Regions from separate parts of the Homo sapiens genome. Here region 1 is reported to be linked to region 2. The links are microRNA targets in miRTarBase. Many come from high-throughput screens and were not tested one by one. Region 2 holds a microRNA gene; the other region holds the end of a gene's coding sequence.

Evidence for each region. Region 2 holds the annotated microRNA hsa-miR-3682-3p (UGAUGAUACAGGUGGAGGUAG, at 7,384-7,404, shown strand). A microRNA usually pairs through its seed, bases 2 to 8, with sites in the 3' UTR of a target mRNA and lowers its output. Matches are read on the target gene's strand: a 7mer-m8 pairs with bases 2 to 8, a 7mer-A1 pairs with bases 2 to 7 and ends in A, and an 8mer does both.
Region 1: the mRNA of MAML3 is a reported target of hsa-miR-3682-3p. Seed matches in the 3' UTR shown: 7mer-A1 at 5,693-5,699.

The regions. Positions count from the first base shown.
Region 1 is chr4:139,710,347-139,722,686 of GRCh38, reverse strand. It overlaps MAML3 (mastermind like transcriptional coactivator 3), which reads left to right. Exons shown (of 5, transcript NM_018717.5): 5 at 2,364-5,934. The coding sequence ends at 3,364. It also overlaps a transcript of MGST2 not described here. Among named protein-coding and RNA genes, the nearest start is that of MGST2, 51 kb to the right of the region's middle. RefSeq lists an enhancer at 10,368-11,567.
Region 2 is chr2:53,844,200-53,856,539 of GRCh38, reverse strand. MIR3682 (microRNA 3682) reads left to right here and starts at 7,335; the gene lies at 7,335-7,418. All of the region lies in intron 1 of GPR75-ASB3 (GPR75-ASB3 readthrough), which reads left to right. GPR75 (G protein-coupled receptor 75) reads left to right here. Exons shown (of 2, transcript NM_006794.4): 2 at 1,675-3,628. The coding sequence starts at 1,784. The coding sequence ends at 3,406.

The DNA of each region.
Region 1 (12,340 bases), not on the chromosome of region 2:
TGGGCAATGTTACATGACTATGGGGAAATACTTATTTTTTTCACAAATACAGGCTTCTTGTGAGTGAAAATAGAACATAGACTTTTTTAGGAAAAAGTTGGATACTATCATCTGTATTTGAATATACAAGATTTTCTTGGACATTGTGATGTTAACCAGCAGACAAGAAAATTAGATTACAGTGTCTCACAATAATATCTGCTTTAGACCAAAAAAAGAAAAAGAAAACATAATCTGTTGTTTAACACATGTAGTAATCATGTAAAGACAAGTTAATTCCTTGGACACATCTGAATTTTTTTCCTTTGTATATTTAAAATCACGGAAGGCATAAAACTAGATTAATAAAAGTCCTTTTATTTCCCTTAGGTGAAAAAGAATGTGGCAATTGCTGATTTTAAAATGCCTTTTAAAAATAAGAATTACATCAAGATAGTGCAGTCATTTACACTAAATAAAAAATAAAGGTTGGCTTGGATTAATGTATCACTGCCTATTAAAAAGCATTGTAACGCTTCTGCCCTCTAAAGAAAGGAACCTATTTCTCATTCACAAAATTATTCCAGACAGTATCTAGTCCTTTACCATATCCATTATAAATATACCCCAAAATGGCCAAATTATAGATGTCCTTTCATCTATTTCTAGCAGCCCATCAGACTGTTTATATAATTTGGGTCTATCCAATCAATCTCTGACTCAGCAATATTTTTCCCTTAAACTTTTTTTATAAACAACTCAATAACCCATTTCACCACAGTTGATCTTATTGGCCATGCAGCCGATAAAAATTTAGTCGTTAAGGTCACAAAACTGCATGACAATATTACAAGTTGCAGTATATACTACCTTCCAGTGTTTTACTAGGAACTTTCGATTTTTCAAAAAATCACTTAGATATAATGAAGCTTAAAAAAATATATGAAAACATTTCTAGGGATTTCCCCCAGATCTTTCAGGTTTCCTGATAGAAATCGTTTCATTTTTCAATGCAGTATGATATTGATCTCAAGCCACAAAAACTTGAGACATAATCAAAATTCCAGTAATTTTCTTTCTTAAAGAAAGGAAGAAACTATGGAGACATATTTGCAGCCCAGAAATCAATAGCCACATCAGGAAGACAAAAACATGCTTCAGTTATCTACCAGGGTGCCAGGTTTAACAAGGTTAGACTATTCTCATCTGGTTTCTCATCACAGTTCCAGGTGGGATCAAATTTGCTTAGAATATTGACTGGCTCCCATGCTGCACCTTCTTTAAATGTCCAGGAAAAAAACTATTTTTCTTCTTCTCATAGACTCAATCATTAGCAGGGACATAGAAAAATCCGTTTTTGTGTACCTCCTAGACCTTTGCAACGTTGACTGGTGTTCTACTGGCGACATTTCCATTCCCTTGGCTGTTTGGAAATTTCCTGGTAACATGTAAAGAAGGACTCACTCAAATGCCTAATTAAGGTTGAATGACTTGGTATGGACACTCTGGCCACCTTTTAAACAGCATTATTAAAATTGTGTTAGCAATTTGCTGAGAGAAATAGTCGTTGCCGATTTGAAGGAATGGACTTTGCTGTAGAAATGCGTAAAGTTTATGGCCAAGTCGCACGTAGCAGGATGATTTCTTTTTCTAGCTCAGGAAGCTGGCCAGTTTGCAATGACAAGTTATGATTCAGAGAATCTGGAGCATGTTGAAATCTACAGAGTGGATCCGAAAAATGTCCTATCTGTCAAAATAGCTGCTTAGCAGAAGCAGTGGCCTTTAACCTCTCAAATCCTACTCAAGTCTTAAGGGAAATTAGTCTAATGGTCTTTATTGATAGTATTCTCTACTGAACCATGTTCCACTTCACAAATAGAAAATACAAAGTGATCAGCCATTTCTTTCTAATTTAGCCCCAGAGGTGGATTCTCTCTCACCTCCAAAGAAAATAGTATCTTATTGGTTGAGGATGATGTCATACCTATAAGAGTACGAAATAATTTGCTTCTGAAGTATAAACAAGAATTACATCAGGATCTGTTTAGTGGAAAAGTCAGCTACAAAAACACATGCACAGTACGATCCCAATTTTTGTGGGTGTCTATTTATATACAAATAAAAGAATAGGAATGATCATCTCTGGATAGTGGGATTTCAGGTGACTTTAATTTTTGTCTCTGTATTTTTTAACACTTTCAAAATTTTCACAATCAGCATATGCTATAATCAGAAAAATAATCATTTTTGTTACAGATTTATTATCAGAGTAGATCCTTTCATATAAAGGAATTTTGTCATTCCCAAAGAAAATTCCAACATCTTGTTGCAGTATATTGCTTATGGAGAAGAGTGAGTGGTATGTGTCCTCTTTTTCACTGCAGGTTCTCCCCAGGATATAGCAGCCGTAAGAAGCCAAGCAGCCCTCCAGAGCATGCGAACGTCACGGCTGATGGCACAGAACGCAGGCATGATGGGAATAGGACCCTCCCAGAACCCTGGGACGATGGCCACCGCAGCTGCGCAGTCGGAGATGGGACTGGCCCCTTATAGCACCACGCCTACCAGCCAACCAGGAATGTACAATATGAGCACAGGCATGACCCAAATGTTGCAGCATCCAAACCAAAGTGGCATGAGCATCACACATAACCAAGCCCAGGGACCGAGGCAACCTGCCTCTGGGCAGGGGGTTGGAATGGTGAGTGGCTTTGGTCAGAGCATGCTGGTGAACTCAGCCATTACCCAGCAACATCCACAGATGAAAGGGCCAGTAGGCCAGGCCTTGCCTAGGCCCCAAGCCCCTCCAAGGCTGCAGAGCCTTATGGGAACAGTCCAGCAAGGAGCACAAAGCTGGCAACAGAGGAGCTTGCAGGGCATGCCTGGGAGGACTAGTGGAGAATTGGGACCATTCAACAATGGCGCCAGCTACCCTCTTCAAGCTGGGCAGCCGAGACTGACCAAGCAGCACTTCCCACAGGGACTGAGCCAGTCAGTCGTGGATGCTAACACGGGCACAGTGAGGACCCTCAACCCAGCTGCCATGGGTCGGCAGATGATGCCATCGCTCCCGGGGCAGCAAGGCACCAGCCAGGCGAGGCCAATGGTCATGTCTGGCCTGAGCCAGGGAGTCCCAGGCATGCCAGCGTTCAGCCAGCCCCCAGCACAGCAGCAGATACCCAGTGGCAGCTTTGCTCCAAGCAGCCAGAGCCAAGCCTATGAGCGGAATGCCCCTCAGGACGTGTCATACAATTACAGTGGCGACGGAGCTGGGGGTTCCTTCCCTGGCCTCCCGGACGGTGCAGACCTTGTGGACTCCATCATCAAAGGCGGGCCAGGGGACGAGTGGATGCAGGAGCTTGATGAATTGTTTGGTAACCCCTAATCAAGAGAGGCCCCAAGATCCACAACTCGAGTGGTTAAAGCTTAAAAAGTGAAAAAGAAACAGGATGTTGACCCATCCTTGTTTTTTGTTTTTTTGACCCACGTAAACTGAGCAAAACTGCAGCTGGCTGACAATGGAAGATCCAGGTGCCAATCCACAGCCCCACCAGGCCTCATTTCACCTGATTTTCACACAGCAATCGAGATGAGACGCCATGCAGATCCCGGCTGCGAGAGAGGGAGACACCCGGAGGAGCAGGTGGGAAGATGAAGCCGGCCAGAGCCCCTCTGCCCAGCATGCCCTGTGATCGCCTGGCCCAGCAGGAGCTGCTTCAGCCGAGAGGGACTATTACCCAAGAGAGGTATCCTCAGCCCCTCCTGCCCCAGGTCGGGAGACAGCAGCTTTGGAGACACAAAAGAGACAGAGCCTCAGCCAGGGAGAGTGAGTCCCCCAGAAGAGGCTGGGTGGTTGCACAGGCCAGGTGCACAGGTTGGAAATGCACTGAACTCTGGGTGCCGAGAGATGTAAGGCTTTGAGACATGCTACTGAATTTGGAGGGCAGGCACGAAGAACAGTGAGATTGTCAAAAGGAGACAACCACAGATCCTACAGGACTGTCTGTCTCCTGCCCCATGATGACCCTCAGGAATTGCAAAGGCTCTGCTGTCACAAGGAGAGCAGGCTGAGTTTGGAGCAGGGTCCATCCGGCAGTCCTGGGACGGCTTCCCTCTGCTGGTGCCCCTGGTGGCAGTCCCTCCAGGTGGGGCTGGAGCCTGCTGGCGCCCAATACAAAACCCATACATCCAGGTGGGTCACATCTACTTCTGGCGGCCGCAGGGCAGGGAAACCCCTACTGGACCCTGTGTGTCTGCCAGCCTGGAGCCTTTGTCTCCAGCCCTGCCTTTATTCCTCCTTGCCTCCACACCAGCCTCCCCTTGCTTCTCCTTACAGACTATCCAAGAAGTGAAGCTTATGTCTTTAGGGAGCCTTGGGCAGAGTCCACATAAATGCAGGAAGAACTTAGACAATGCCTGAAATGCAAAGGCGACACTGGAGTCTTCTTTCTCTAACGTGTAGCGTTGAATGAATATCTGCCTGGAACCAAGAGGGCTGCTCTGATGTTTGGGAGTCGGTTTTTTGTGAGCCACATCTGATATTTCTGATATCCCCAGGAAGGAGTGGCCTGGAGGTCACTGGTTCAGGCTCCCTTTGGGCGAAATCCTGGGAGTGATGCTCTAAAAATCCACCTTTCCCATCATCCCTACTCATCAGAAAGACAAATATAAAATCCCAGAGAGGTGGAGGAGCTAAAAAAGCAATTGCTCCACCTTACAAATTTGGATAGAAAGGAGATGTAGTTTATTTCATATGGGCAAAGTAGTCCTCTTCCAAAGTCCTGTACAGTTGTTCTCTGCAATTGACGCACATCTGCCCTAAGCGAAATCTGTCAGAAGGAATCAACAAGGCTCCTTGCCTCCCCTCCCAATCCCCCTTTTGGAGGACTTGTGGCTTCGGTGTCGTCCTAAGTGAGAGTGGCGTGTGCTTTTTTCCTGTCCCCTCCTCCCTCCGTGTCCTAGACGCTGGCTGCCTTCTGTGCACTCCCAGGCAGATCACTACGGAAGAGTCGGAGCCTGTGGGGTTGGACTGGCCACACTCAGTCCTGAGAAGGCGAGTTGCCATGGAAAGCTGGGGGCAGAGGTGTTTTTGGAGAGGAGGCGGCAGGCAAACATTGCCTTTGACTTGCTCTCCGCGTACCCGGGGTTGTAGAGCTGCTCAGGAAGGGGCAGGATGTAAGGCCAGAGGTGCCTGGTGGGTGAGAAGCCCAGGCAGGGGCTGGGCGCCCTCTCCGAAGAGGTGGCAGCAGGGTGACCCTGAACTCCCCAAATGGGGAGTGATGCCACTGGGGAAACTGAGTGGATCAAAGAGATGAAACCAAAAAAAAGCAAACAAACAAATGAGAAGACACAAAACATAATTACCTTTTCCTGAAAGGTACAGGAAATAAATATATAAGCAATGATGAGAAACTGGAGGTGGCTAATGGAAGTGAGACAGACAGGGGTGGGGGGCTCCATTATCTTTTAAAAGCTTCCTCCAAATGCTCAGTACTGGGACCAACTAATAGGTAGATTTTAATATGGTGGTTTTGTTTTGGTTTTGTTTTTACTACGGTGCTGATGTATATGTAATGTCTAAAAAAAGTTATTTGTACATAAGTTTTTACAATACTGCAGATATCACTGGGTCTACTATCTGTAAAAAATATACATATAAATATATATATACTGTTTGTTTAAAATAGAGTATTTTTATTTCATTCCTTAACTCATCATCACAGCAGTGGTATTGCACTTCAGATGACATCTAATTACTAATTTGTACTGTATGACCTCTGGCAACTTGCTCCATTTTATTCAGATTTTTCTAGTTTTCTGTTTTTACTTTGTACATTGAGCATTGCTTATTTCCTTTTAAGAAATGTACAGAACGCTGAAATGTAGAAATGAAGTGATGTTGACATACCACTTTTAAAGAAAACAAAAACAAAAATAAAAGATTATCTGAATCAATCCAAAGTATAGTTTATTTTAAGATCCTCACTGGAGCTCCAATCTTAATTAAGCAGACATATTATTCCTGGGTTTTAATTAACTGCAGTTCTTTTCTCAAAATTTTGATATCATTCTTTAAACATTTATTTAATGGGAGAGATCAATCATTCCCAGCCTTTGCATTCAACTGCACAACTGATGATACTTTCTGAATTTACTGCCGCACTCTGAAGGATGTGGCAAAGGGAAGGGAGGAAAGTCAACTTTGCATGGAACATAGTGCAATCCATTTGTAGATTCAGTACCATAACAATTCCATTTCCAACTAGTTCATCTGGAGGTAGGGAGGCTCCACTGGAAAAATAAATATTTTTGTCAAAAAAAGAAAAATCGGAATATATTGAGGGGAAGTAATAAAGGTTCTTGTTCCACTGTAGTGAGCACTGTCAGTAAACAGCCTCCACCACCCCACTCCTACCAGGCCACTTCTTTGCATCTCAAACCATGGCCTGGCTTCACCTGCACCCACAGAATTGAAAGTGCTTAGAAGTTTATACCCCTCTGGATTGACTTTAGCCAGTGACTCACTGGTGCAGGAGTATAAAAGCCCAGTTGACTTGTCTGAACAAACTCAGATATAATTTTGCTCCAGAGCTCTACTGCAAGATCAGGCAAAGGCTGGGACTTGGTTTAAAGGTGCCCCCCAGACCGGGCACTGTAGCTTACACCTGCAATCCCACCCAGCACTTTGGGAGGGCAAGGCAAGCGGATCACTTGAGCCCAGGAGTTTTGTCAGAGGCGTGTGAACCAGAGCAACTCCATGTTAAATAGGAGCTGGGTAAAATGAGACTGAAACCTACTGGGCTGCATTCCCAGACGGTTAAGGCATTCTAAGTCACAGGATGAGATAGGAGTTCAGCACAAAATACACGGCATAAAGACCTTGCTGATAAAACAGTTTGCAGTAAAGGAGCCAGCCAAAGCCCACCAAAACCAAAATAGCGACGAGGGTGACCTCTGGTCGTCCTCACTGCCACACTCCCACCAGTGCCATGACAGTTTACAAATGCCATGGCAAGGTCAGGAAGTTACCCTATATGGTCTAAAAAGGGGAGGCATGAATAATGCACCCCTTGTTTAGCATATCATCAAGAGATAACCATAAAAATGGACAACCAGCAGCCCTCGGGGCTGCTCTATGGAGTAGCCATTCTTTTATTCCTTTACTTTCTTAATAAACTTGCTTTCACTGTGCACTGCAGACTCACCCTGAATTCTTTCTTGCGCAAGAGCCAAGAACCCTCTCTTGGGGTCTGCATCAGGACCCCTTTCCTGTAACACATTTCTCTGTCCTGCAACATATTTCTGGCAACCACCGAAGGGACAATAGTGTAGAAACCTAGACCCAACAGCTACCTTTGGGTAAGTATTGGAGTCCTCTAACATATTTCTGGAGAACGATGGGACGATACTGGGGAGACACCCCCTAACACAAAGGAAATAGACTGCAGCACTGATTGGAAGACTTTGGGTAAGTGGTGGGGTACCTGGGTAAAGAATGGGATTGGGTTAGAGGCCCAGCTTAGTGGAGTTAGAGTCTCTCCTAAGATAGAGGTGGTTAAAGGCTCCCCCTTAATAAAAGGCAAGGATGCTTGACCGACCTCTGGTTAGAGGCCCGACTTAGGAGAGTTAGAGTCCCTTCTAAGATTTAGCGGGTTAGAGGCCCCTCTTCGGTAAAGTCCCTCTCGGCTAAGAACAGGTTCGGCACTATGGGATGTTAACTGCTATTCTCTTTGGATTAATCTCCCTTGTACTTTGCTGATGGCTATGGGTGACAGAATTAGGAATGTACAGGATCCTGGGACATGGGGAGCTTTTTCCTCCCTAACAAGGGAAATTTGAGAGCTGGTAGGATTACTGGAAAAGATCCTTGCTCCACCGACAGCAGCCACCTGAACTTTTTAGTGTCGCTGCAATGGGTGGTTCTTTCTCTGGCCTCCCTGATCATTTCACCTTCCCCGCCCTGCCACAGGCAATGTTTTTCTCTCTCTCCTTTCTCTTTCTTTTCTATTACTCAGGGCGACCATCTTGCCCAGAGACCACATGTTGAAACTCCTAGTCGGAGGTTAGATTAAAGATGACAGGGCCCACCTGAGGGCAAATTTAAGCCTTGCCAGTTTGATATTGGATGCTAAGCAGCCTGGTTAATATCTATGTTTTATTACGCGTATTTTGCTTTGGCCAGAACAAAAAGAAATACTTTTCCTTTATGATGCGGCTTGGCCCCCAAAGGCAGTTGTGCCACAAGCCAGATCACTAGGGCCCCTCAGGGAAAGAGAACCCAGAAGCTTAGCATGCTGGCAAAAGGGTAGGAATTTCTTCCCAGTCAGATTTCTGGCTTCTGTCTCTGTGTGCAAATAGTTAAATGAATGGGGGGAAAAAATCAGTGTTTATGTCCTCTGTAAAGTTTTGATTAATGCCAAAAAGAATTCTAAGGCTAGTCTTAAGCTGGTGTATTTTGTGCCATGAATTCGTTTTTCTGTGTAAAGGGGTACTTTAGGATAAAACATGGGCTTAGAATACCTGTAAGCCCGCTTTTCAGGATGACCTCACAAGCTGGTCAGTAATAAACTTGGCTGCAGGTCCCTGAAACAAACAAAAAACTGGATGAAATCTCCACCTTGTTTTATGTCCTTGGGAGCTTGACCTTTTAACCATGTGGTGGTACCTTCCCGTGGTCTCCACCTTCCAGGAAATAGGAATTTTAGGATTCATGTCATAGCTCTAAAAATCATATTAAATAGTTAAAAGCCTTTGCAAGCTCAAAATTAACTACTCTAGACTCTTCCTGGGAAAGGAACTGGAGACCACGCTTTGCTATAGCTCAGTAGCTAAGATCGTGCACTTTCATATTGGTAGCCAGGGTTCGATTTCCCCGCCTACCATTTCTGGTTTCATATCTGCATGACCTTGTCTATTCTCTTCTTCTCCATGGACTGTCTTAAATTTTCCTTTCACTAAGCACCTAGGAGGTTATCTCTGGTAGAGTTCAGAAGCTAGAAATATTGGCCGCTTGGCATTGTTAAAGTCAGGTAATAAGAGATCCAAAAGTATTTCTTTTTTAAAGAACACTATGGTTAGAAGTCAGCTTAATTAAAAGTAGATAAACAAGCAATAGATATATTTAAAAGGCCATTAATGATTTTCTCTTTTTGGAACTTGTTTTTCTGGAAAAAGGTTTTTTCTTCTCAGTCAACTGAATTATTTTTCTCCTTTTTTTTTTTTTTTTTTTTTTCTGTCTTGCCACTCTTAATGAACACACGAGAGGCCCTAAGATAACTTCTGGTAGCCTGGGACTCCTTGGGAAAAACAAAGGAGGTGTCACAGACTCATTGGGAAAAACAAAGGAGGTGTCACAGACTCCGTTTTGGGAAAAAACCTGTTTTTATCTTGAAACCCCAGGAATTAAAAGCAGATGGATCCCTCTCAAAATCAAATGCTCTGTTCTGTTTTGTATTGTGTTATCTGATGGTTTTGAGTTTGGGGGGTATCAGAAATTACTTTGCATTTTGAGACAGCTTTGCTGTGAAATAACTAGGTAGGAAATATACTTTAAGGGATGGCTAATAGTAGTTATGGAGGGATACTTTGACTCCGCACACTTGGAACAGAGAAGCATGCTTTGCTTTGTTTTTCAGAGTCAAGGAAACTTTTCTTTTGAGCTATTTATAGCTTGTAGCAATTGAGTAAAGCATACTGCTGTGAACAAAATTTGGAACATATTTGTTTCTCTCTAACCTGACTTCAGAATTTGGAAATTAGTTGTGAGTATTCTTAACTTATGGCAATATACTTATTTGCATAAATGCAATACGAATCTGTTTTCTTTTGTAACAGGACACAATTGGAGAAATGGGTCATTTTACCAAGGCTTTGACTGGAATGGTGTGCTTTCCTTTAAGGAATCAAACTTGACTTGTAGAGCCAATAAAAACCCTTTGGGGAACTGGCCTCATACCTTGCCTACACAGTCCCTGTATAGGGTTTCTGACCTATGGTAAGTAAAGAATTTCACTTTCTCACAGGTCCAGGAGCCCCAAGTTATCTTGGGACCTCAAAAGGACAGGAATTTACCTAACTCATAGGTATTTCAGGGTACAAACCCATGGCAGGGCTCGGCTTTTTAAAAAGTCTTATCTGAGATTCCTTATGAAACAGAGTTCCATCAAAGCCAATTAAAATGCCTGTGTGAAAAATAATTATCCTTGCTGTACTTTATACAAATAATCAGGCCAAGTATAATAAAGCAAATCAGTCTTACCATAATTCGTCTTTAGTAAAAATGGGAAACTGGAGCGAGAACTATTATGTTTCAAGAACTATGGTACACTTGTTATTAAATTCTAGTCTCACTAGTTGTTTTTAAGTTTGTTTCTGCAATTTAAGCTAACCCTGTTTATTCCTGTGAACTAACCAGTGATCTCTAACTGCTGCTCAGAGGAAACAAGAGGGATGGGTAATGTAAAAGTCTGGATCAGTATTCTAATTCTGGGCACATTGCAATCAGCTGCCAACCCCATATCAGCTTGGTTTCAACAGTTGCACAGTTGATGGAAAGCCTTCTAATTTAGCTTGCTTGGAATAACTTTACTTATTTTGCTTTACTCTTGTGGAATACATTACTGCTATACTCTTTGTGTAGGAATACAGAACAAGCTTACTGAATGTTTTCTTAAACTAAACACTTATTAATCTTCCAGATATCACCTCTTGTCAAAACTCAAGAGTCATGAATGGCCCTCACCATACTGATGCTTTCTGACTGAGCTCCTCTATACCCTGAATGCAAGAGACCCTCATAGTTAGGCAGGAATATCATCGCCCCTATTCAGCCTGAAGAAGTTACAGAAGATGGATCTTTGTCCCTCTGCAACCCTTAGGATTAAAGGTTCTCTTATAAAAGAAAGGGGGGAAATGTCAGAGGCGGCAACTCCATCTTAAATAGGAACTGGGTGAAATGAGGCTGAAACCTACTGGGCTACATTCCCAGACAGTTAAGGCATTCTAAGTCACAGGATGAGATAGGTCAGCACAAAATACATGTCATAAAGACCTTGCCGATAAACCAGGTTGCAGTAAAGGAGCTGGCCAAAATCCAGCAAAACCAAAATGGCGACGAGAGTGACCTCTGGTCTTCCTCTCTGCTACACTCCCACCAGTGCCATGAGAGTTTACAAATGCCATGGCAATACCAGGGAGTTACCCTATATGTTCTAAAAAGGAGAGACATGAATAATCCACCCCTTGTTTAGTATATCATCAAGAGATAACCATAAAAATAGGCAACCAGCAGCCCTCGGGGCTGCTCTATGGAGTAGCCATTCTTTTATTCCTTTACTTTCTTAATAAACTTGCTTTCACTTTGCACTGAGCACTCACTCGTGCAAGAATTCTTTCTTGCACGAGATCCAAGAACCTTCTCTTGGGGTCTGGATTGGGACCTTTTCCTGTAACATATTTCTCTGTCCTGTAACAGTTTGAGACCAGCCTGGGCAACATGGCGAAACCCCATCTCTACAAAAAATAGAAAACAGCCGGTCATGGTGATGCATTCCTGTAGTCCCAGCTACTCAGGAGGCTGAGGTGGGAGAATCACCTGAGCCCAGGAAGTCAAGGCTGCAGTGGATTGTGATCACGCCACTGCACTCCAACCAGGGTGACAGAGAGAGACCCTGTCTCAAAACAAAAAAAAAAAAAGGGAAAAATAAAGGAGCCCCCTATTTTGGCTTGTTCCCCTTCTCTGTCCTGTTACCCCCACTCTCTTTCTTTTTCCCCTATTGAGAGCCCTTTGTTAATAAATCACATAGATGTGAATCCACCTCTCCACTTCTAGGAAATGACCTAAGACTCCTCATCAAACTTTAAAAAGCTTAGTATCACAACATGTTTCAAAACTGGGTTAAGAGGAAAAGTAGGCCACAGAATAAAGTCATCATCAAATTTAGGCACAAAACAAAGGTAAGTTTTAATATACACAAACCAAAAGAAAGAATTTAATTATGAAGAAGAGGCCATCGCTACCCTTAGTGGGCTATGGTTCCAGACAGGTTGGCAAATAACACCATGTAGGAAACAGCATGGCATTGGGCTTTGTTCTTTTGATATTGGCTTAGCACTCTCCCAGAAAACATGGGAGAGAAAATGAACTGATTCCGGGGTGGAGGGAGGGCACAGGGGGACGCTGACACTAGAAGTAAAAACGTGAAGCTCTGAGAAGTGTTGATTACTCCTAGTTCCAATCAATTCAAGCCACATATTCTTACTTATACTCGTTTGGCACTGGATGAATGGAATACCTTTCTCTTTTCAAATGAGTTCTTACATGTAATCTTACTGACCTTTATAAAATCCTAGTGCAGTAAGT
Region 2 (12,340 bases):
CTGACTGACCTGGTTCATTCCGCTGTACCCCCTTGATCTGGCAACTAAAGGGTTAACAGCTGGAGGCTTCTGGGATCCAGCTTGAGCTGGTGGTTAAGTACACTGAACATCAGCCCTGGACCTCTGCAGTGCCACTTATTGTTCCTAAAATTCTAGATTAAGGCAAACCCTTTTTGGTTGTCAAGAACATAGTGCTGTCTCCAAGGAACAGCTTAGTCGGTCCCACCAGAAGCATCTGTTGGGAGCAGGTTGGGCACCAACCCTTGCAGGACTTTGGGATTTGGGACAATGTAGATTTGTGTGAGTGCACATTAAGTCTCATTGCAAAATAGAAAAAAAAAAGTTAGGAAAAAGGAGCAAGAAGTTATTCTTTTAAAGTAGAGACTGCCTTACTCATCGTAGCACCTAGCACCTGGCGTAATGCTGGCATATGGTATGCACATAATTAATATAAATTGAGCGAACGAATGCAGGAATGGGTGCATGCCTCCTGCTTCACCATCAGGATATTCTTGTTGGGATAATGGTAACTCACATTTATATAGCAGTTTAGACTTTACAATGTGGTGCTTTGCACCTTGTAAATTTCTAATATAATTCCAACATCCTTGGTTACTTCCAGTTTTCCGTCTCACATGTAGTCCTACACAAGGTTTTTTTCCAAAGGAGAATATGTAGTTAATTGGCCAAGAAATTGCAAGCTGGGGGAAAAATTATAAATACTGGGAAATAAAGGATTCTTCATAGGGAACGAAACAGGGTTTGTTAATGATTTATGGGAATTATGTGAAGGGCCACATTATGCATCAACAATACCCTCCAGCCTATATTTCAAGCACATGCAGTTTTTTGCCGCAGTGCTTCTGCTGCAAAGACCTACCCCCACTTCTCTTAGCCTGTCTGTCCCCACTCCATACCCCCGACCTTTCATCCAGCTGGCCTGTGCTTGCTAAAGCTCCCTTTATCCTTTCCCAGCTCCCTTTCCATGTTGGAGTAGGTTCCCCCCTTCCATGCTCTCATAGCACCCTGCAACCTTATTAGGCTGTAATTATTACATAGTTAGATTGATCTCCAACTAGATTGTCATCTCTTTGGTGGAGAGATTACGTTCTTGTGTATCTTCAGTGCCTGACACAGAAGTGTTTCTAAAAGTAACATCTGCACACCCCTCAAACAGAATCACAAGGGGCGAGGCCAAGAAATCTGCTCTCCAAGTGATAACTTAAACTTTTTAACATGCTCTTCAGGTGACACTTAAACTTGTTTGAAAACCTCTGTGTCATAAAACTAAATATTAGCTGGATGAATGTATTTGTATCTTTTTCTGTGTTGGCCTTTGTGAGGAGAAATGCTGTCTATGCACCAAATCAGAGCTGAAAAATTCTAGTGTTTTGTTAAAAAAAAAAAAGAGAGAGAGAGAGCTGGGTTTGGTGGTGCATGCCTGTAGTCCCAGCTACTTGGGAAGCTAAGCCAGGAGGACTGCTTGAGCACAGGAGTTCAAGTCCAGCCTGGGCAACATGGTAAGACCCCATTGCTAATAAATGAATAAATTTTTCTCTCAAGGTGAGAGATACTAGTACTAATACTACTACTAATAATGAGATCACTGTATGAATTCCTTTCTGTTTCTACATTAATCCCTTTCTGTTTCTGGGTGTGCATTTTTGTGTGTAGGCTTATCTGTCTTGGGCCTCTTTTGTCACATATTGCTCATCTGTGAGCTGAGGCCCTGACTCACTGAGTATTTTTGGGGAGCAGAAGAAGGAGACATTTCTCTCCGAAAATGAACTCAACAGGCCACCTTCAGGATGCCCCCAATGCCACCTCGCTCCATGTGCCTCACTCACAGGAAGGAAACAGCACCTCTCTCCAGGAGGGTCTTCAGGATCTCATCCACACAGCCACCTTGGTGACCTGTACTTTTCTACTGGCGGTCATCTTCTGCCTGGGTTCCTATGGCAACTTCATTGTCTTCTTGTCCTTCTTCGATCCAGCCTTCAGGAAATTCAGAACCAACTTTGATTTCATGATCCTGAACCTGTCCTTCTGTGACCTCTTCATTTGTGGAGTGACAGCCCCCATGTTCACCTTTGTGTTATTCTTCAGCTCAGCCAGTAGTATCCCGGATGCTTTCTGCTTCACTTTCCATCTCACCAGTTCAGGCTTCATCATCATGTCTCTGAAGACAGTGGCAGTGATCGCCCTGCACCGGCTCCGGATGGTGTTGGGGAAACAGCCTAATCGCACGGCCTCCTTTCCCTGCACCGTACTCCTCACCCTGCTTCTCTGGGCCACCAGTTTCACCCTTGCCACCTTGGCTACCTTGAAAACCAGCAAGTCCCACCTCTGTCTTCCCATGTCCAGTCTGATTGCTGGAAAAGGGAAAGCCATTTTGTCTCTCTATGTGGTCGACTTCACCTTCTGTGTTGCTGTGGTCTCTGTCTCTTACATCATGATTGCTCAGACCCTGCGGAAGAACGCTCAAGTCAGAAAGTGCCCCCCTGTAATCACAGTCGATGCTTCCAGACCACAGCCTTTCATGGGGGTCCCTGTGCAGGGAGGTGGAGATCCCATCCAGTGTGCCATGCCGGCTCTGTATAGGAACCAGAATTACAACAAACTGCAGCACGTTCAGACCCGTGGATATACCAAGAGTCCCAACCAACTGGTCACCCCTGCAGCAAGCCGACTCCAGCTCGTATCAGCCATCAACCTCTCCACTGCCAAGGATTCCAAAGCCGTGGTCACCTGTGTGATCATTGTGCTGTCAGTCCTGGTGTGCTGTCTTCCACTGGGGATTTCCTTGGTACAGGTGGTTCTCTCCAGCAATGGGAGCTTCATTCTTTACCAGTTTGAATTGTTTGGATTTACTCTTATATTTTTCAAGTCAGGATTAAACCCTTTTATATATTCTCGGAACAGTGCAGGGCTGAGAAGGAAAGTGCTCTGGTGCCTCCAATACATAGGCCTGGGTTTTTTCTGCTGCAAACAAAAGACTCGACTTCGAGCCATGGGAAAAGGGAACCTCGAAGTCAACAGAAACAAATCCTCCCATCATGAAACAAACTCTGCCTACATGTTATCTCCAAAGCCACAGAAGAAATTTGTGGACCAGGCTTGTGGCCCAAGTCATTCAAAAGAAAGTATGGTGAGTCCCAAGATCTCTGCTGGACATCAACACTGTGGTCAGAGCAGCTCGACCCCCATCAACACTCGGATTGAACCTTACTACAGCATCTATAACAGCAGCCCTTCCCAGGAGGAGAGCAGCCCATGTAACTTACAGCCAGTAAACTCTTTTGGATTTGCCAATTCATATATTGCCATGCATTATCACACCACTAATGACTTAGTGCAGGAATATGACAGCACTTCAGCCAAGCAGATTCCAGTCCCCTCCGTTTAAAGTCATGGAGGCTATAGGATCTTATGTAAACAGTTTTTGTTTCTGATAGTAATGGACTTTATTCTAACTTGAGATCAGTGGCGGATCAAAACCTACAAGATTCAACTGAAAAGTTGGCAGTTATGGTTTTCTTTCATCTGATGTGTCAGTATCTGTTGATTTGCTTTGTAGTTTGTTGACATCTTAAGATTTGATGTGAAAGTTTTAGATTTTTTACCCTGCTCTTTGCCTCAGTCTTTTGTACCGAGCCTTTAAATAGATGCCAGGAATGAAGCTACTGTGTTAAAGTAGAAAGTCAACCGATTATCATGATTTGAGTCAGTGTTATGTGACTTCAAAATAAGGTATTGACTGGATTTTTTTTAAAGAATGTGAAAATATGATTTTTGCTGAGGTGTTATTTTTATTAATTGAATTGTAAATTTTGATTTTTTGAAGTGTTGAAATCGGGAACACTACACCTTGTTGGTAGCAGGTTGATTTGAATAAATAATATATTGTTAGCTGGGTGCAGTGGCATGCACCTGTAGTCCTAGCTACTTGGGAGGCTGAGGCAGGAGGATCACTTGAGCCCGGGATTATGAGTCCAGCCTGGGCAACACAGCAAGACCCTGTCTCTAAAGGAAATGTATATATTCTTTTTTTTTTTTTTTTTTTTTTTTTTTTTTTGAGACGGAGTTTCACTCTTGTTGCCCAGGCTGGAGTGCAATGGCATGACCTCGGCTCACCGCAACCTCCACCTCCCGGGTTCAAGTGATTCTCCTGTCTCAGCCTCCCAAGTAGCTGGGATTACAGGCGCATGCCACCATGCCCGGCTAATTTTTGTATTTTTATTAGAGACAGGGTTTCTCTGTGTTGGTCAGGCTGGTCTTCAACTCCTGACCTTAGGTGATCCGCCTGCCTCGGCCTCCCAAAGTGCTGGGATTACAGGCATGAGCCACTGTGCTTAGCCAGAAATATATATATTCTTAAGGCAGAAAAGGTGATAACTCTGTCTTTACCAAAAACACTCACACAGGTATTAGGTACTTTTCTTTCATAGGACAGTCAACTAAGAATATAGTATTATGATTATTGCCATTTCTTATTATAGACATGTTTTATGTCAGTTGAGTAGGTTTACAATTCTTTTGAAAAGAAATATATTTGGGCCGGGCATGGTGGCTCACACCTGTAATCCCAGCACTTTGGGAGGCTGAGGCGGGTGGATCACCTGAGGGTCAGGAGTTCGAGACCAGCCTGGCCAACATGATGAAACCCCGTCTCTACTAAAAACACAAAAATTAGCAAGGCATGGTGGCAAGCACCTGTAATCCCAGCTACTCGGGAGGTTGAGGCAAGAGAATCGCTTGAACCTGGGAGACAGGTTGCAGTGAGCTGAGATCGTGCCATTGCACTCCAGCCTGGGTGACAAGAGCGAGATGTCATCTCAAAAAAATGAAAAAAAGAGAAAGAAAGAAAGAAAAGAAATATATTTTTGCTTGTTAAAAGTGAATTATTTATTTATTTATTTTTTTCCTGAGAGGGAGTCTTGCTCTGTTGCCCAGGCTGGAGTGCAGTGGCATGATCTCTGCTCACTGCAACCTGCGCCTCCCGGGCTCAAGTGATTCTCCTGCCTCAGCCTCCTGAGTAGCTGGGATTACAGGCGTGTGCCACCATGCCCAGCTCATTTTTGTATTTTTTAGTAGAGACAGGTCTTGAACTTGTCTTGAACTCCTGACCTCAGGTGATCTGCCTGCCTCGGCCTCCCGAAGTGCTGGGATTACAGGCATGAGCCACCCCAACTGGCCCAAAAGTGAATTGTTTCTGAATGATCTTATTCAAGAAGCCTAGTGAAGAGGACTGCATCTATGGTAGAGGTGCACTGTTCCCAGGAGAGAAGGCACTGCGGTAATCATCTCGGTGTTCTGTGGAAAACAGTGTGGACTCCTGTCATGCATTGGGCAATATTTATTATTGCTTAACAAGGTTTACAGATAAGACTGGGAATGTTTTGATTTATGTTTTCCTTCTGTGTGAGAAGAGTTTACTAACCACCTGACAGTATTCAAGTAACTATTTAGAAATGACTTCTTTTTTGTCTTTATTTATTATTATGGTAGAAAAATTCTCAAGATAATCTATTTTCAAACTAATCATTTTATTTCTCTCCCATTAATCTTAAAGTGGAAATGGGCAGAAAGAAAAAATAGATTTAAGTATTTCTATACCTGAAACTAATTTTACTATATGCTCTGAGATTCCTAGCATAACAACTGTGAACTCATATTTTATTGTAAAAATATTTTCAGTATACAGTTAGTATTTGAACTCACTAGGTTTTTAAATGTTAGACACACAAGATGAGCATCAATATACAACACCTATCTTTATAAATTGTTATATTCAAGAGTTATTATTGCAGATTGGAAGGTACTTTGTTCCTTTGCGTAAAAGTCTTTTTTTTTTTTTGTAGAAACAGAGTCTTACTCTGTCACCCAGGCTAAAGTGCAGTGGCATGATCTCAGATCGCTGCAACCTCCGCTTCCCGGGTTCAAGCGATTGTCTTGCCTCAGCCTCCAGAGTAGCTGGGATTACAGGTGCCCGCCACCACTCCTGGCTAATTTTTGTATTTTTGGTAGAGACAGGGTTTCACCATGATAGCCAGGCTGGTCTTGAATTCCTGGCCTCAAGTAATCCACCCACCTCGGCCTCCCAAAGTGCTAGGATTACAGGCATGAGAAACCACATCCAGCTGAAAGGCATTTAATTTATAGTTTCCTCCCTCAGCTCTCCCCAAATACAGGGGTCATGAGAGGTATAGAGAAGACAGAATAGATATTCAATTAGAACTCTGCTCAACCTTATCTTATAACTGTTACCTTTCAGTATTGATCAGTTATTTCTATTTTTGAGATTTAAATAGGCATAGATTTTCTTTTGTTTTCTTTTTCTTCTAAATTTTTTTCTTGCCACACCCAGGGGCAGCCTCGAATTATTTTGTTTTTAAGTTCACCTTTTAGACTGATTTGCCTACCTACTCCCTCCTTCTTTCCCTTTCTCCCTCCCTCCTTCCCTTTTTCCCTTTTCTTTTTTTTAAGATGGAGTCTCATGCTTGTTGCCCAGGATGGAGTGCGGTGGCACAATCTCGGCTCACTGCAACCTCCGCCTCCCAGGTTCAAGCGATTCTCCTGTGTCAGCCTCCCGAGTAGCTGGGACTACAGGCACGCACCACCACTCCCAGCTAATTTTTGTATTTTTAATAGAGACAAGGTTTCACCAAGTTAGCCAGGCTGGTCTCAAACTTCTGACCTTGTGATCCACCCACCTCGGCCTACCTAAGTACTGGGATTACAGGCGTGAGCCAGTGCACTGGCCTATTATCTCTTTTTAACAAAGAATTAAGAAATCTAATATTCTTTCCCAAGATCGTACAAAGAATTGTGGCAAATTAGGAATTAGATTTTTGTCTTAATTCAAAACCTGGTATTTACCCCAGTGTGCCAAACAGCTTTATAATGAAGACAACATTAATCAAGCATCACATTTTTAAAGGCATATATCTATTTTTTTGGCTATGCAAAAAACCTTGTCTCTATTAAAAATACAAAAATTGGCTAGGCATTTCAAATGTGATACAATAAAATATTAACACAAAAGTAATTTCTATTTATAAAATTTAAAATGGCAGGTTTTCTGTGTGACGTTTGAGTTTGAGATGATTTGACTGGCATGAGGCCCATCATTGGGAGGTAAAAATTACAGCACAAAGAAAACTAAGCAGGTGCATATGAGGTATTGTCTCTTTATGCTCATCAAAAAATAATCTCCAAAAGAAAAGTTAAAAAAATTATTGTTATAAATTGCATGAAATACATAGTGGGCTCGATTCATAGCCCCCGTCCGTATCTATATCTCTATATCTATAGAGACATAACTTCTTTCTTCGTAAGTTATATATGTCTACTTCTACCTGTGTTATCATAATAAAGGTGTCATGATGATACAGGTGGAGGTAGAAATATATAACTTATCTCTTCATAAGGGCTAAAATGAGAACTAAAAGTAATGAGAATTCAGTTGAATATGATTAATTATCAGGATATGTTAATTAGTTCTCTTGATGCTTACTGTGATGCAAAGTATGTGACGTATTTTAAACATTTTATAATAATTGTTCGTATGTTAACCATTAGGCAAGATTTGTATTTCTAATGCTTTTAATGTTCTTTTAAAATAATGTTTGGAAAATAAAAATACTGAAAATCCTAACATTTCTGAACACCAGTTTGCAATATAATGAATTTCCTGTCTGATCATTTTAAAACTATCAGAGCATGGCAATGATCATTTTTGCCCAATGGATAACAATGTGTTGAACCACAGACAGAGAGCTCTTTGCCTTAAGAGATGAAATAACTTGTTTGACTATATATAAATTTTTTTTTTTTTTTGTAGAGACGGGGTCTCCCTATGTTGCCCAGGTTGGTCTCCAACTCATGGGCTCAAGCGATCCTCCCGCCTCAGCCTTCCAAAGTGCTGGGAATAGAGGCGTTACATTTTGTATCATATATGCTCAGACTAATCAAGGATAGTTAATGCCAAAGACTATTTACAAAACTAAGTTTCTTACTCAGTGAAAAGAGGCTAAATGAACATTTGAGCAACTCATTTAAATGAAATTTAGCTGGAAAAAGAAAAATTTTGAATTTTTGGTTTATCGATCAGGGTCTGGATTTAAGAATCAAAAAACATTAACATAAGCAGGAAAGCATTTAATATAGGAAACTAGATGTCTACAGAATGGTTAGATAGGGCTCTATGATGAGTCTCCAGGAAAGATTGCACCATAAACATGACCAGCCGGACCAGCCATAAATGCTACTACTTCTGCTCCAACCAAGAAGAGAGGAAGTCAGGAAGCCTACCTTGGACTTTTGACTTCAAGAACACACTGTTAAAGTTGTTGTCCACCAGTGAGGAAGTTGCTGCCACTACTATTTCCACAAAAAACTCTCTTGACACCTACAAAGCAAGTGGCTGAACAACAAGACACTGCTATAGAAAAAATCTGGCACCATGCAGTTAGATGGAGAAACTAAGTTTGCATCTAGAACCCTAGCTTCAGGGAAATCTGGAAAGTGTACTAACACAAAAGTATACTCAAAGGAGATGCAGAGTTCTAATCTGTTCTGTCCACAGAGGTTCACCTTGGTAGTCAACATTTGTTTTTTTTTTTGAGATGGGTTCTCACTCTGTTGCCCAAGCTGGAGTGTAGTGGTGCAATCTCGGCTCACTGCAACCTCCACCTCCTGGGTTCAAGCGATTTTCCTGCCTCAGCCTCCTGAGTAGCTGGGATTACAGGCATGCGCCAACACGCCCAGCTAATTTTTGTAGCAGAGACGGGGTTTCACCATGTTGGCCAGGCTGGTCTTGAACTCCTGACCTCAGGTGATCCACCCACCTCACCCTCCCAAAGTGCTGTGATTATAGGCGTGAGCCACTGCATCCGGCCAGTAGTCAACATTTTTTATACATACCTCTAGCCATACTCCCAAACAACAGCAGTAGCTATACCACCATTCTCCCTCTTGAAATAATGCAGCTTCTCTCATTTAAACAAAAATATGTACTTTGCTAGGCGCTGCATAGCAATCTCAGCACTTTGGGAGGCTGAAGTGGGAGGATCGCTTGAGCCCAGGAGTTTGAGACCCACCTGGGCAACGTGACAAAACCCCGTTTCTACAGAAAAGTTACTTGGGCATGGTGGCAGGTACCTGTAGTCCCAGCTACTGGGGAGGCTGAGGTGGGAAGATCGCCTGAGTGAGTCCAGGAGGCCTAGGCTGCAGTGAGCCAAGATCACACCAGTGCAATCCAGCCTGCAGTGAGATCCTGTCACAAAACAAAACAAAATAAAAAATGCATACTCTCCTCCAGAGGGAAGATGCTAAGTCTGATCAATCTCTGGGTTTCTCAGTGATGTTCATTATTCTTCTAGTTCAGTCAAAAATCTCAACGTGATATTCTGTAACCTAAGGACCAAATTATAAAATTTACCACCAACAAACAAATTTAATCATCAAGAGTAAAAAGAAGAAATTGGTTGAAAATGTTTCATAGACACACACACACACACACCAGGATAAAGAATAAATGGGGATTAGTACAGACTTTGCTTGCTTCCGTTGGTCAAGAAGCTGTGATTGGTATTTTATAATGTCCTCCACTTCCCATTTCCTATCCCTTTGCCATTAGCTAGCATGTCATGTAGTCTGAGAAAGTAAGTTTTATCAAATAGCAGAGGGAATGAAATACTAAGAAAACAAAATTTATAAAACATAATGTAGGATTACAGAAATAACTGGATAAATGGAAATGCTTAATATCATATATAAAAGAATTTATATATATGCTTAATATCATATATAATATCATATATAAAAGACAATTCGAATTAAAAAACAACATGAAGGCCAGGCGCGGTGGCTTGCGCCTGTAATCCCAGCACTTTGGGAGGCCGAGGTGAGCGGATCATTTGAGGTCAGGAGTTCAAGGCAAGTCTGGCCAACATGGTGAAACCCCATCTCTACCACAAATAAAAAAATTATCTGGGCATGGTGGCAGGTGCCTGTAATCCCAGCTACTCAGGAAGCTGAAGCAGAAGAATTGCTTGAACCAGGGAGGCGGAGGTTGCAGTGAGCTGAGATCACGCCACTGCCCTCCAGCCTGGGTGACAGAGCGAGACTCCGTCTCAAAAAAAATAAAAAATAAATAAAAACAACATGAAAATATATGCAACATTTGCTGCTTGGAATAGAGAAACACAAACTGAGAGTAAAAATTAAGATACAGGCAAAAGTAGACAAGCCTTCATGAACAAAAAATGATGGTGACAGTATTAATATCAAAGTAGAACTGAAAGCAAAACCACATTCTAGAAGATAACTAATATTGATAAGAGGAACAACCAAATAATAAAGCAATACGTTTCATTCATTCAGCAGATATTTGTTGAATACTGTGTACCAGCTTGAGATACATTGGTGAACACAACAATGAAGTTTCTACCCCCATAACACATTATACTGAAGATAATAAATACGTAATTTTCAAGCACAGGATCCCACAGTAATCCATGGGGAATATGTTCCAAGACCCCCAGTGGATATCTGAAACCCGGGATAGTGCCAAACCCGATATATTCCATGCTTTTTCCTTTACACACATACCTGTGATAAAGCCTAATTTATAAGGCACGGTAAGAGATTAACAATAATGAATATTGTAATAAAAGTTATGTGAATGTGGTCTCTCTCAAAATATGCCACAGGAAGCTGAAACCAAGGATAAGGGGGGACTATGGCAGTGATACATTGAATGAAGATGATAAAATAGTAAAAGCAGAGAAAGTATGGGGGGTGGTGGGGATGTGATTTTGACACAGGGAGACTAGAGATAGTCTTTCTTAGGAGATATTTGAGCAGCATCTTGAATGAAGTCTTAGGGATTGAGCCAGGAAAATAGTTGGGACAAGAGCTTTCCAGGCTCCAGGAGTAGCCACTAAAGGCCCAAAATAGGCATGTGTTTGGCATGTTTAAGAAAATTGGAGGTGGGGCGCAGTGGCTCATACCTGTAATCCCAGGACTTTGGGAGGCCAAGGCGGGCAGATCACTTGAGGTCAGGAGTTTAAGACCAGCCTGGCCAACATGGCGAAACCCCATCTCTACTGAAAATACACAAATTAGCCAGGCATTGTGGCGTACGCTTGTAGTCCCAGCTCCTTGGGAGGCTGAGGCAGGAGAGTCGCTTGAACCCAGGAGGTGAAGATGGCAGTGAGCCAAGATCATGCCACTGCACTCCAGCCTGGGCGACAGGGTGAGACTGTCTCAACAAAAATAAATAAATAAATTGGCAGAAAGAATGGCAGGAAATGAGGTAGCCAGGAACCAGATCATATAGGCTTTTTGTAGGACTTGACAAGTGTTTTAGATTTTTATTCCACATATAATGGAAAATCATTGCAAGATTGAGAGCAGAGGCTTAATAAAACCAGATTTGTCAAAAACAACAAAGTGCACAAAGCAAAATCTGTTAGAATACAAGAAGAAATGGACAGAAACATGAACAAAGTAGGAGATTTTAATACTTCACTAAGTCTAGGATGGACCAAGAAGACAAGAATGGTAAGAACATAGAACAGTTTACAAATATATAATTAGAAAATAGAATTAATATTGAGGTGTACACACATAATTTTATATACCTCACAGCAAATAAGCTTTCTTTTACATGTTAGCAGAAATAAACAACTGATTAATAGACCAAAAGAAAACGCTCAATGAAATAGAAATGCTGAGTCCCAGTGTCATAAACTAACAGTGCTACACACAATTTAAGTTCTATTTAGCTCCATTCAACTTTTGTTATTTTTGCCATTTTTAATTCTCATCTGTTTTTATTTTGAACCTGACGACATTACAGTTATAATGTGGTCAATTTTTTTTTTTTTGAGACAGAGTCTCTCACTCTGGAGTGCAGTGGCATGATCTCTGCTCACTGCAACGTCCACCTCCACCTCCCCGAATTAAGCAATCCTCCCACCTCAGGCTCCTGAGTAGCTGGAACTAGCAGCACAGGCCACCATGTCCAGCAAATTTTTGTTGTTTTTGTTTTTGTTTTTGTAGAGGCAAGGTTTCACCATGTTGCCCAGGGCTCAATTCCTGGGCTCAAGTGGTCCTCCCACCTCAGCCTCCCAAAGTGCTGAGATTATATGTGTGAGCCATCACACTTGGCCTATTCATTGATATTTACCATATATTATCACATTACTTAAAATTTTTTTTTTTTTAGACAGGTCACTCTGTCGCCCAGGTTGGAGTGCTGTGGCACGATGATGGCTCACTGCAGCCTCATCCTCCTGGGCTGAAGCGATTTTCCTGCCTCAGCCTCCCAAGT